Regions from separate parts of the Homo sapiens genome. Here region 1 is linked to region 2. The links come from fine-mapping of genetic effects on plasma protein levels. Region 2 holds a variant in brackets. A gene starts in the other region. All regions are shown on their reverse strands. Region 1 holds the start of CHL1 (cell adhesion molecule L1 like). Region 2 overlaps ST3GAL4 (ST3 beta-galactoside alpha-2,3-sialyltransferase 4).

The links. PIP is the chance, under the fine-mapping model, that this variant and not a neighbour inherited with it causes the effect. Protein levels are from antibody-based Olink assays in UK Biobank. Linkage for the fine-mapping came from a reference panel and not from the study's own genotypes, which makes the PIPs less certain.
Region 1: CHL1 starts here. The variant in region 2 is fine-mapped to the plasma level of the CHL1 protein (UK Biobank, PIP 0.96).

Annotation. Positions count from the first base shown.
Region 1 is chr3:194,082-199,446 of GRCh38, reverse strand. It overlaps CHL1 (cell adhesion molecule L1 like), which reads right to left and starts at 2,684. Exons shown (of 28, transcript NM_006614.4): 1 at 2,384-2,684. CHL1-AS2 (CHL1 antisense RNA 2) reads left to right here and starts at 2,106. Exons shown (of 4, transcript NR_144487.1): 1 at 2,106-2,480; 2 at 2,939-2,991; 3 at 3,407-3,451; 4 at 3,533-3,689.
Region 2 is chr11:126,410,911-126,416,229 of GRCh38, reverse strand. It overlaps ST3GAL4 (ST3 beta-galactoside alpha-2,3-sialyltransferase 4), which reads right to left. Exons shown (of 11, transcript NM_001254757.2): 10 at 2,582-2,725; 11 at 1,592-2,269. The coding sequence ends at 2,183. Among named protein-coding and RNA genes, the nearest start is that of ST3GAL4, 58 kb to the right of the region's middle. The variant G/A (reference allele first, on the strand shown) is at 2,340.

The DNA of each region.
Region 1 (5,365 bases), not on the chromosome of region 2:
AGGAATCAATAAATATCTATAGCCGTTTCTTTGAAGAAAAGGATCCGTAAGTCTACATGCAACAGATAACAATCTGGGAAACATATATTCATCATCATAGTCTTGTGCTGCAGTGAAGTGGGTACAAACATACCCTGAAAGAGATTTTAATGAGTTGCCATAGCCAGTACTCACACCCATCCAGTAATAACTATTTGTCTCCATTGATTTGCTCACAATATTCAGGAGCTTGCAAGGAATGATTATACACTACGTTCTGCCATTACTAAAGGTAAATCCACTGCAGCACTTAAGGCCATAAAATGGAAAGCCAGGGTATACATAGGCTCTGTAACCACGTTAAATTATGAAAGCCAAATGGTGGTCCCTCACAAAGAGACTGAAATTAAGACAAACCCAACTGCAACATCTGCAGGTGAAAGAGAAAACACAAAGATTTACAAAAGAAAAACTCTGGGATAAACTTTTTATTTTCTTGTCACCAAAAGTTTCCCCAAAGAGCTTCCTAAGCTTCTCTCTCCATCAATATACTGAAAAGCCAACTTCATCGGCAGTTGATCAGTTTCTCTCTTCCAATCTGCTGCAAGGCAGAGCTTCGTAGGAGTTGGACTGTGCAGTACAAATATTCATATTTTAATTAAGATTATTCTCCAAAATTAGAAAACGCAGAATTTTTACTTCAATGAAAATGCAGAGAAATGAAAATGCACCATATGTAATTAAACTGAGGATTAACTAACAGTAATGGCATCAACGACAATAACTTTTGAGTGCTTATTATGCATCAAATATGCATATGGTGTTAAATTTAAAAATCTATGGTGTTAAATTACTTGTATCATCTCATTCCAGTCTTGCAACAACCCAGTATAGAGGGTATCGATAATCTCCGTATTATTGAGAAAGGGAAACTGAGGCACGTAGTTAAATGCCTAGTCCAGAGTGACGCATCACAGTGATGGTGGAGCTGGAATTCGAAGCCACGTGGGCGTCCCGGGAGCCTCCGCCTAGAGCGAGCCCGGGGGGCCCACCAGTTACCATCGCCACGCGCACGCGCAAATCTCCCCGCGCACGGCGCGTTCCCGCGGGAGCGCGCCCTCGCGCACGCGCCTGGCAGGGCAGCCGCTCGCCGGCCCTGGGGCTGCTCCGCGGCTCCCACGAGCGGGACTGGACGCCGGCGCCCTTCGAGGAGGGGCTGAACCTGGGGCGCCCTCTCTGCCGGGCCACCCAGCCCTGCCGACGCACACCTGCCCTCCGCCGCCGGCCTCCCACCCCTTCCCCGCCCGCCTTCCCGCCCAGCAGCCCAAACGCCCACCCTGCGCTCCACCCTGCTGGCCGTCTGGGGCGGGGGTACCTGGGCCCGCGCGGCTGCTGCTCCTCCGGCCCGTGGTTTTTCGCAGGAGTTCCCCGGCCCTGCCCCTGGCTGAGACACTGTGGCTCGCAGCGAGCCCGGAGAGTGGGAACGGAGGGGCTGGCTTTCCCCAGCCTCCCGGCTCCAATCCCTGCTCCCCAAATTAATCACTTTCTCCGTGCTGCCTCCCCACGCACACTCACACTCCAAAAAAAAAAAAAAAGCGAGAGAAAGAGAGAGGCACAAAGAGGAAGAAGGGACCATCCGCGACCGGCATCTCCAGCCCCCCGGGCTCCGCTACCAGGAGCCATGGCAACCACGGCCCCCGGCGCGCCCTCTCGCCCCTCGGCGGTCTGGGGAGGTGGAGCTCTAGCCCCTCTCTGGGTTTTCGTGCTCCCCAACCCCACAACCCCACGGTCCATGGATTCCCCGCTCCAGGCTGGCGGCATTTTCGGAACCCCCCCCGGGCTGGGATCTAGAATCCTCTCCTGAGAGGAGGAGCCACACAGGGGCAGTGGACTGGGGGGGTCTGAGCCCCACACACCAGGCGGTGTCCAGGGGAGCGAGGGGCGCGGTGGGAGACAGAGGCCGGGACTGACCCCCAGACCAGCTAGACCTCGGAGCCCCACCCGAGAGAGGGCGGAGATCTACGGGGGGGTCTGGAATCCTCCTCAGAGAGCAGCGAGGGATGGGGTGGCGGAGGCTGGAAGCGGGAGGGCCAACCTACCGGCGGCCGGCGGGCGTGAGTGGGACCCGGCGGATTCGGGCGCCCGGTGTGCTCCGTCGACTGACCCCGAGCTGTCCGAATCCGGCCTCGGCCACCGGGGGCGGGGCGTGAAAAGGGGGCGTCTCCTCCCGGGTGCAGGCTGAGGGGCCCGGACCACCCCCACTGCGGACGAGGGACCCTGACCGCGCCCCGCTTCCTTTCCATAACGAGTGGACCCCTCCCGGAGCACCTTCAGCCCTTCCTCCACGGGAGACCCCCCCAGCGCCGGCACGAGAGATGCCAGCGGACCCCCACCCCTGACACACCTGCGCCGCCTCCGAAACGCGATCTGTCCGGCGCCTCCCCTCGGGCGCCTTCTCCCCCGAGCCGGCCGGGAGCCGGGACGGGGGCGCGCAGGGTCCGGTAAGCTCTGGGCGGATCCAGGGAGGGTCTCGCCGGCCGCTGCCCGCTGGTCCGCACCCGGGGCTGTCCGCGGAGGTCCCGCCCGTCCCCTCCCGCCGCTGGCTCTCTGGCCGCGGGAAGGCTGGAGCCGTTCTGGCTGGCACCGGGGTCTACGCCCTCCTGCCGGAGGCTGGCTCTCGCCTCTGCTCCCTTCCTGGGTTCTGCGCCGCCACCCCTCACCCACGCCGCTTATCTTCCCTCCCTTTGCACGCTCCCGCGGGACAGGGAGAGTTACAGGCTTCAGACTTTATCTCGTTGTGGAAAGCAAGAGACCAAGCCAAAAACTTTGGTCGTGCTTTTCAACATCTCCGGTCAAAAGAGGTAGGATCCCTGCTCGTTTATCTGCAAAAGCGACATTTAAAAGAAACGCCCCCCACCCCCTCCCCGATGGTTTCACTCGGTTCATGTTGCACACACAGGTCGCCAATCTGCTTTTCTCCCATTGCTGCGTCTTAGAGGGGTGTGGTGCCATGTACGTATTAAAAATTGTCTTCTTGCTTTCCTTCATTTAAGGGCGTGGTGGGGCTTGCTATTGAATTTACAAAATATGCTACGACCATCCGCTGTCAAATTGTGCATGCTTAAATTTACAGATCTTCTACTATCTCACAATTTTTGCCCTAATACAGAGTCTATAATGTTACCACATCGTTTCGTAACGTTTTTCCTACTTATCCTTTATTAATTCACTATTGGAGAGGAAAGCCTTCTGTACTCATATTCAGTGCAAAAAGCCAGTTCTGATGCCTTATGAATCCACAAACACATAAAAATATTTTAGGATTCCAAAATTCATATGGAAAAATTATAATTTTTAGCACTACATTTGATTTATATGCCACTTTATTTTTTTTCCATTATGGTGGTATTTTCCAAAATTTTTACAGGATACCACTTTTGAAAATCCTGTTGAATGCAAGTCCTCTTTGTTGGTAAGAGAATTATTGACTTCTAATTTTTACTCCACTAAGGCTGTGAGATTGACCTTACAGCCTCGTTTTGTTTTCATCTAGCTCATTGAACAATGAGGATATTTAGCTCCCCTCAGAGCTACCCTCAGAGTTGGATGAGCTATCCTCAGAGTTGGATGCCACCACCGGGAGCAGCAAAAGCGAAGGCAACTCATGATTCTGCCTCAGAAGCAATCGAATAAAATATTTTGAAAATGAATGAATGGACTTTTAAATTTTAATCATCGCTAACCTTGGGGCCTCGATTCTGTCAATTTGTGTGTGGGCACAGTTCTTACCAACTGCCTTGGCAAATTGTGAATGCAAGTGAGGGCAGGATTTGTCCTAAGTTTAAATTGTACTGCTGGAGTGATTTCTTTTGCCTGAGGCATCATTATTCACGTGGCATGTTTTCTAAAGTAGAAACAAAGATAGAATATTAAATAAAATTCCAACAGGGGGAAATACTCTGCCTGTAGAAAAACATTTCCAAGGTCAAGGAACCACAAGAGAACAACAAAGCGAAGTTGGTCTCAGGAGTTTACCATCTTCTGGGTGAACAAACATCAGCTGAGCAAGGGACTCGGAACTCCATTTTGGCCAGATGAACAGAGTACTCTTAAATATATAGCTCCTTCTTTCTTGGTGATTTGTTTCTTGACAATAGAATCATTATTTACAAAACAAATATTTATTGAGCAGCTACTATTTAATCAATCACTGGTCTGGGTGCTGGGCTCAGTAGGAAACTCAATAGGCATGGCCAGTAGCTTTTTAAAAAATCAAATACCCTCCAAATATATTAGACAGTACCAAGCCACAATACCCAAAACAAGAAGATGGCCAGTTCTTAACTATGAGTTTTTAACTGAAAGGGAGATAACATTCTTCTAAGCTTCTGGCATTGCATATAAATGAAGAAATAATAGCCACACATAGCTTACTAGGGACAGTAAGGAAGTCAGCTTGTATGCAATACACGTTATCCCAGGCAACCAAATTTTACGAAAGAAAAGAGGGAGATAGGGAAAGTCTAGGGAAGGAAAAAAGGGAGGAAGGAAGGAAGGAAGGGAGGAAGGATGGAAAGAAAGAAGGCCAGCAAATGATAAACCAAGAAAGGAAATCGTACTTTTTAAGGCAATGCAAAAGGAAGACAGATGACCTAAATTTCTACATCCAAGAAACACCTCATAGCTGTCGCTTCCAAGGATGAGTTCATATTTTTGATACATTATCAAAAGCAGGCAACACATCTAGGCTTGCCTGGCCCCAGGAATTCACAACTCTACAGCCTGAGCTTCCAGTAAGGCTGGAACCAGAAGACAGTCCCCAGCCAGAGCGGATGCTTGCTAGAGATACCTTCTGCTGCTGCTTTGGAACCCTCCCCTGGCTCCCATTCTACTGTCTGACACTTGGTTCAGACCCATTTCCCATTCAACATACAATCCTAATCTATCAGGCATCCCACAGTTGCACCTAGGTGCTAGAGAAAGAAGATATACTTATGAGTCACATGGAAATGTGATTGCCGTAGCTTTGAAAGGTGTGAATTTTCTCTCTGATAATTGAGGACGGCCGTTTCGAATGAAAATACTAATATCAAGCCACAAAAATAGGGGAGAAAAGGGCCCTATCATGAATAGAAGCAGAAGGTGAGAGAGAGGCCAGTCATCTGGAAAAAGATAAAAGCTATTAAAAGCTGGGGCATTTTTCAGCTTTTCCTGCTGATTTACTGCCTCCCTCCCTCCCTCCTGAACCATCATTTGGTATCATTCCCAGAGCTAGGGCCATTGAAGTAGTATTGCCTTTTGGCAAATACAAGTAGCTAGTGATGTGGCATCATTCCTAGAAAAATTGTTTAGCAGAAGAGCTGGAGTTTTGAAAATGGCATTTCAG
Region 2 (5,319 bases):
CAAAGAACCCCATCCAACAGCCCCACATCAAAGCCCCATTCTCAGCTCCGACCCTTGGCCAGTATTGCCTCAATCTGCGTAGGATGTTGGGCACCCTGGAGAAAGCTATCCCCACCCCCCCAAGCAAACAATGGTCTATTTGGGTATACACACACCCCGCATTCACAGTCTTCTCAGTATGTGAGCAGGAAGGACTGTCCGCACACAGAATCACAAACAACCCACCAAGAATGTAAAATGCTCCCATATCTACATGTGTGCGTGTGTGGAGTTTAGACGGGTCTGACCCACCCCTGTGTGCCGGATTCTAGCTTGAGTTTAGGCACGTTCAGTAACAGGCAGTGGCCTCAGTCCAGGCCAGCTGGATCATGTATGCAGACAGCCATTCTCAATGGCCCCGGATGGGAAAACGGACACTCCCTTGCATCTCCACATGAGCGGCAGCTGGGGACGCATCGGGGTGAGCAGAGTTGAGATCCCCACACGCTCACAACCCCTGCTGTCTGCAAGCTCGCTCCCCAGGACACAGCCTTCAAGACAAAGTTTGCCCGTGTGGAGGGGAGTGGGCTTGGGGCTGCAGATGCTGGGGCTCTACTCGCTCTCAGAACCCCCCTCTCCCCTGGCAAAGCAGCCAGGCTGCTGAGAGAGCAGCCCTTCTGTTCCCTGGGAGGGTCCTTGGGGCCATTCTGGGGGATGAAGTGGGTGTCCACAAGGCCATTCCAACGCTCTGTGGAGAACCATGTCATCTTCCTCTGTTCCTCCCAAACTGCTGCCCCTCTTTATCTGTCCTGTCCCAGCCTGGCTTGTCTCAAAACCTCAAGGCCGCAACTCTTTCCGAGAAAGCCAGGAATACAGCTGCCAGTTCCATTCCCCAAGTGGGGAGTTCCAACTCTCCCTCCTGGCTCCAGATGTAAAGGAACAGCTGTGGGGTGGCAGGAAGCCCAGTTGGCAGCTAAGCAGGATCTGGGAAGATGGAGAACGAAGGCGGGAGAGACAGGCAAACGGCAGGATTGTTAGGATGCTAAAGACCTAGGAAAGAAGCCGTTTCATCCCCTGGCCCAGCAACTGGCTGTTAGGCCTTGCCAAATCCCTTCCACACTGCCCTCCAGGCCTGCCCATCCCATCCTGGCAGCCTGGGCCGCTGGCAAGACCTTCCATAAACTCCATTTTCTGGTTCCCACTTAATCTGAGAAGGGAAACTTGGCTTTCTTTGTCTGACCCCACCCCTGTCCTTAAAACACATACCTCCCAAGCATGAGATTTGGGTAACTGAAGAATGGTGGGGAAGAGAGGAAGGAAGGTGGGAGAGGACTCTGGCACTCTCGTCTGGCATCCTCCAGCCCCTCCCTCCTCTGGGCAGTAACCCAGGGTGCCGGGTGCCAGGCTGGGTGCCTGCAGACGGGTGCTGTGAGCACCACTCACTCTCCTGCTATGCCAGGGTGATAATGCATGACCGGGCACCCAACACTGGACTCAATAAGTCATTATTTCCTGAGTGACCATGCCCTGCTCTGGTCTAACAAGCCTGCCCACTGCCACACCCTGTCCCATGCCTTCCCCCACCTGAAAGGACACAGGACATCACAACTGCTTCCGTTTTAGGAAAAATAGTTTAATGGTAGGTTTGTAACCTCTTTTCTAGATGAGGTCCCCTTCTCGGTGGAACCCCCACACCAGTGCTCTTCCCATGCCTGCTGGGAGGTAGCAGCCCCTCTCTGGAGGGCACCCACCCATTCCCAATGCCCCTGCCCTCCTGGGAGGCCAGTGCCGTGTCTAGGCCTTGGTGGGGCCATCGCTGTAAGTTTTTATAAAAAGTGGGCAGAATTCTCTACTGGCCTCTTTCCTGGATGTGTGGGACCAGCCCACAGCACCTTCCTACCCCTTAATTAAATAGCCCATTAAATAATCTCTTGGTGCTGGCAGAGAGGGGGTGCCACAGCAACGAGCCCCCTGCCCTGGCCGGGCTCCCACGGCTCCAGCGCCCCCACCCTGACTGGATCTCGGCTCCATAAGAGCAGCCAGGGGCATGGCCTCATCTCAGACCTGGCCAGGCCCAGAACTCCCTCCCCAAGAGGGGGTGAGTCCAAGTGGGTCATACTGGCACCAGCCACCCCCACAGCCACGCATGGGGGTCACCCAGACAGCAGAGTAGGCAACCGACAGGCTACAGCTCTTGCCCAGGTCAGAAGGACGTGAGGTTCTTGATAGCTCCCATCTCCAGCATCCGCTTAATGGCCAGGGCCTCTTGGGAGACATTATGGCCTGACCCCTGTGGAGACAGCCAAGGAAATAAACTGAGGGACTCCCAGGGACCTCTCTGTCCCCAGGAAAGTCTCCCT[G/A]CCCCTCCCAATGGCCCCACACTTCTTGGGAGCTCCCTTCCCCAGGCTGGCTCTTGGAAGGAAGACAAAGCCCATGTGGCTGAACATGGAGGATGCTGGCCAGGGAGTCCAGGTGCCTCGGTTCCAGTTCTGACTGCGGGAGCCACCTCTGGGTCTCAGCACTGCTCCCACTCACCCAGTGCCCCTCTGACTGTCTGCCCGTCCACGCCCTGGCCCACCATGCTCACAAGCCAGGCACTTACCGCCATGGACTTGAGCGTGATCTGCTCATAGTAGTGAATGGTCTGCTTCTTGTTGTAGGCGTCTGGGTAGCCAAAGCCGGCAATGTGCACCAAGTCACAGAGGTGGAGGGCCAGCGTGATGGCCAACAGGCCCGTGGTGGGCTTCTGAGGAACAGGGGCAGGAGGGTGTTAGTGGGAGCCCTGCTCCTCCCACCATCATCTCTGCCAGCGCTCTGCAGTGGAACTTCCTGCAGTCACGGAAACGTTCTCCATCTGCGCTGTCCAACAAGACAAGCCACGAGCTAACGAGCACGCAAATGGGGCCAGTGCAGCTGAGGAACTGAATTTATTTTATTAAATTTTAATTAATTAAATTGTAAATTTAAATCGCCACATGTGCTGGGTGCAGTAGTGCATATGCCCATAGTTCCAGCAACTCAGGAGGCCGAGGTCAGAGGACTGCTTGAGCCCAGGACTCCTGGGCTGTCGTGCGCTAAGAATGCACCTGTGAAGAGCTGCTGCACTCCAGCCTGGGCAACATAGTGAGACCCCCCCATCTCTAAAAATAAACAAATATAAATAAGTAAATAGCCACATGTGCCTAGCGGCTACCATTCTGGATGGTACAGCTCCACACATCTGGGGGAGGCCTGGGGCCTGTAGAGATAAGACTAACAATCAGAATGACAGCCATCATCATATCAGTTACTTTTTAAACACTATGTGCCAGACACTATGTTTAGTATTTTACCTACCTACTATAAAACATTATCTCATCTAGTCTCACAAAAACACTTGGAGGTAGCTATTATCATCAGCCCCATTTTACAGATGAGAAAACCAAGGCTTACAAAAGCGTTAAGCAACTCATTCAAAGGAAAGGAAGTGTTCTGCCCTCCTCCTTGGAGAACCTGACCTCATTCAGAAGACCTGGGTGCTCTGACATGCACTAACTGTGCGACCCTTTATGGGGGTGGCGCTCTATTTTTTTAAAGAGATGGGGTTTCACCACGTTGCCCAGGCTGATCTCGAACTCCTGGGCTCAAGCGATCCACCCACCTCTGCCTCCCAAAGCGCTGGGATTACAGGCGTGAGCCATGGTGGCTGCCCTCTCCTTTAAAGCAGGACAGCAGTACCTTTCCCATTCACCTTACTGGCTGCTCTGAGAACCTCAGTTGCTCATGCCTAATTCATCCACAGTGACGGGCAGCCTGATATTCTCACTTCTCCAGCCCCGCCTTCCTCCGCTTCAGCAACCTGCTTTGCACACAATTTCAGCTGCCCATACCCATTTGGGAGCCTTTCCTGGACCTCATCAGGCCTGTCGACATGCCAGCTTTCTCCCTCTCTGAGCTCTCCTGTCTTCTCATCTTCCACTCCCTGGCTGGACCTTCTTTTCCACCCTTGTTGCTTTCACCACCAGTGTGTTATCTCATCCAGCTGGGCTGAGCCACACTTCCATGGCCTTCTAGCCAGCTCTGCCTGGACACAGTCTCCTTACACTCACCAAATTCCTCCTCTTCCTTGCACTCTCTCTCTATTAGTTAAATATGTTACCACCCCCCGCCCCCTACCGGCTGTCCAAGCTAGAAACCCAGAATTGGTCAGAAATCTCTCAATTCCACCTGTAAAATATATAAGGCAGAATCGTAAGAGAACCCCAGTGACGCTAACCCTCATGTAATCTCCTCCCTTGCGCGTGTGGGGAGCCCGTGAATATGATGCGATTACGTGACGTTACTTTATATGGCACAGTTGAACACAAAAGGAGAGGCTGTCCTGCTGAGCTTGACCTAATTACCTGAACCTTTAAATCCGGGTGTCAAGATCAGAAACGGAGGTCAGAGATTTGAAGCACAGAAAGGATCTATTGTGCCGTCGCTGGCTTGAAGATGGAGGCTGTACGGTCAAGAAATGTGGGCCACCTCCAAGAGCTGAGCGTGGCCCCCAGCCTCCAGCTGACAGCCAGCAAGGAAATGGGGACCTCAGTTCTACAATCGCAGGAACCGAATTATTTCAACCACAAGAATGAGCCTGGAAGCAAAATTTTCCCCCAAGCTTCCAGATGAGAACTGTCTGGTTGACACACCGAGTCCAGCCTTGTGACACCCTAAACAGAGAACCAGCCACACCCTGCTGTTCTGATCTACAGGACCATGAGCCAGTACATGGGTATTGTTTTAGCCGGCTAAACTTGTGGTATTAGTTAGGGAGCAACAGAAAGCTAATACAGGCCAGGCGCAGTGGCTCACACCTGTAATCCCAGCACTTTGGGAGGCCGAGGCGGGTAGATCACCTAAGGTCAGGAGTTCGAGACCAGCACTCCTGTGTTTTGTATTTTCGTAAAAATACAAAAATTAGCCAGGTGTGGTGGTACATGCCTGTAATCCCAGCTACTTGGGAGGCTGAGGCAGGAGAATCACTTGAACCTGGGAGGCAGAGGTTGCAGTGAGCCAAGATCACCCCACTGCACTCCAGCCTGGGTGACAGAGCAAGACTCCATCTCAAAAAAAAAAACAACCAACACAATGTTGAGTCCATCTCCTCCTTTTCCCTTCCCACTGCCAGGAGCTGGGTTCAGGTCCTCGCCCTCTCTCATCTCCCTCTCCAGCCTCCTCTCCATCTGTAATCCTATGAATGGCATGAAACTCCTTGTTGCCCTTCAACGCCACTTGTACTGGAAACAGTTCAGTGCTGGAGGAGCCGCCTGCTCTGGCCAAATGGAATGCCTTTCCCCAGCTCTCTGCCTGATCCTTCCA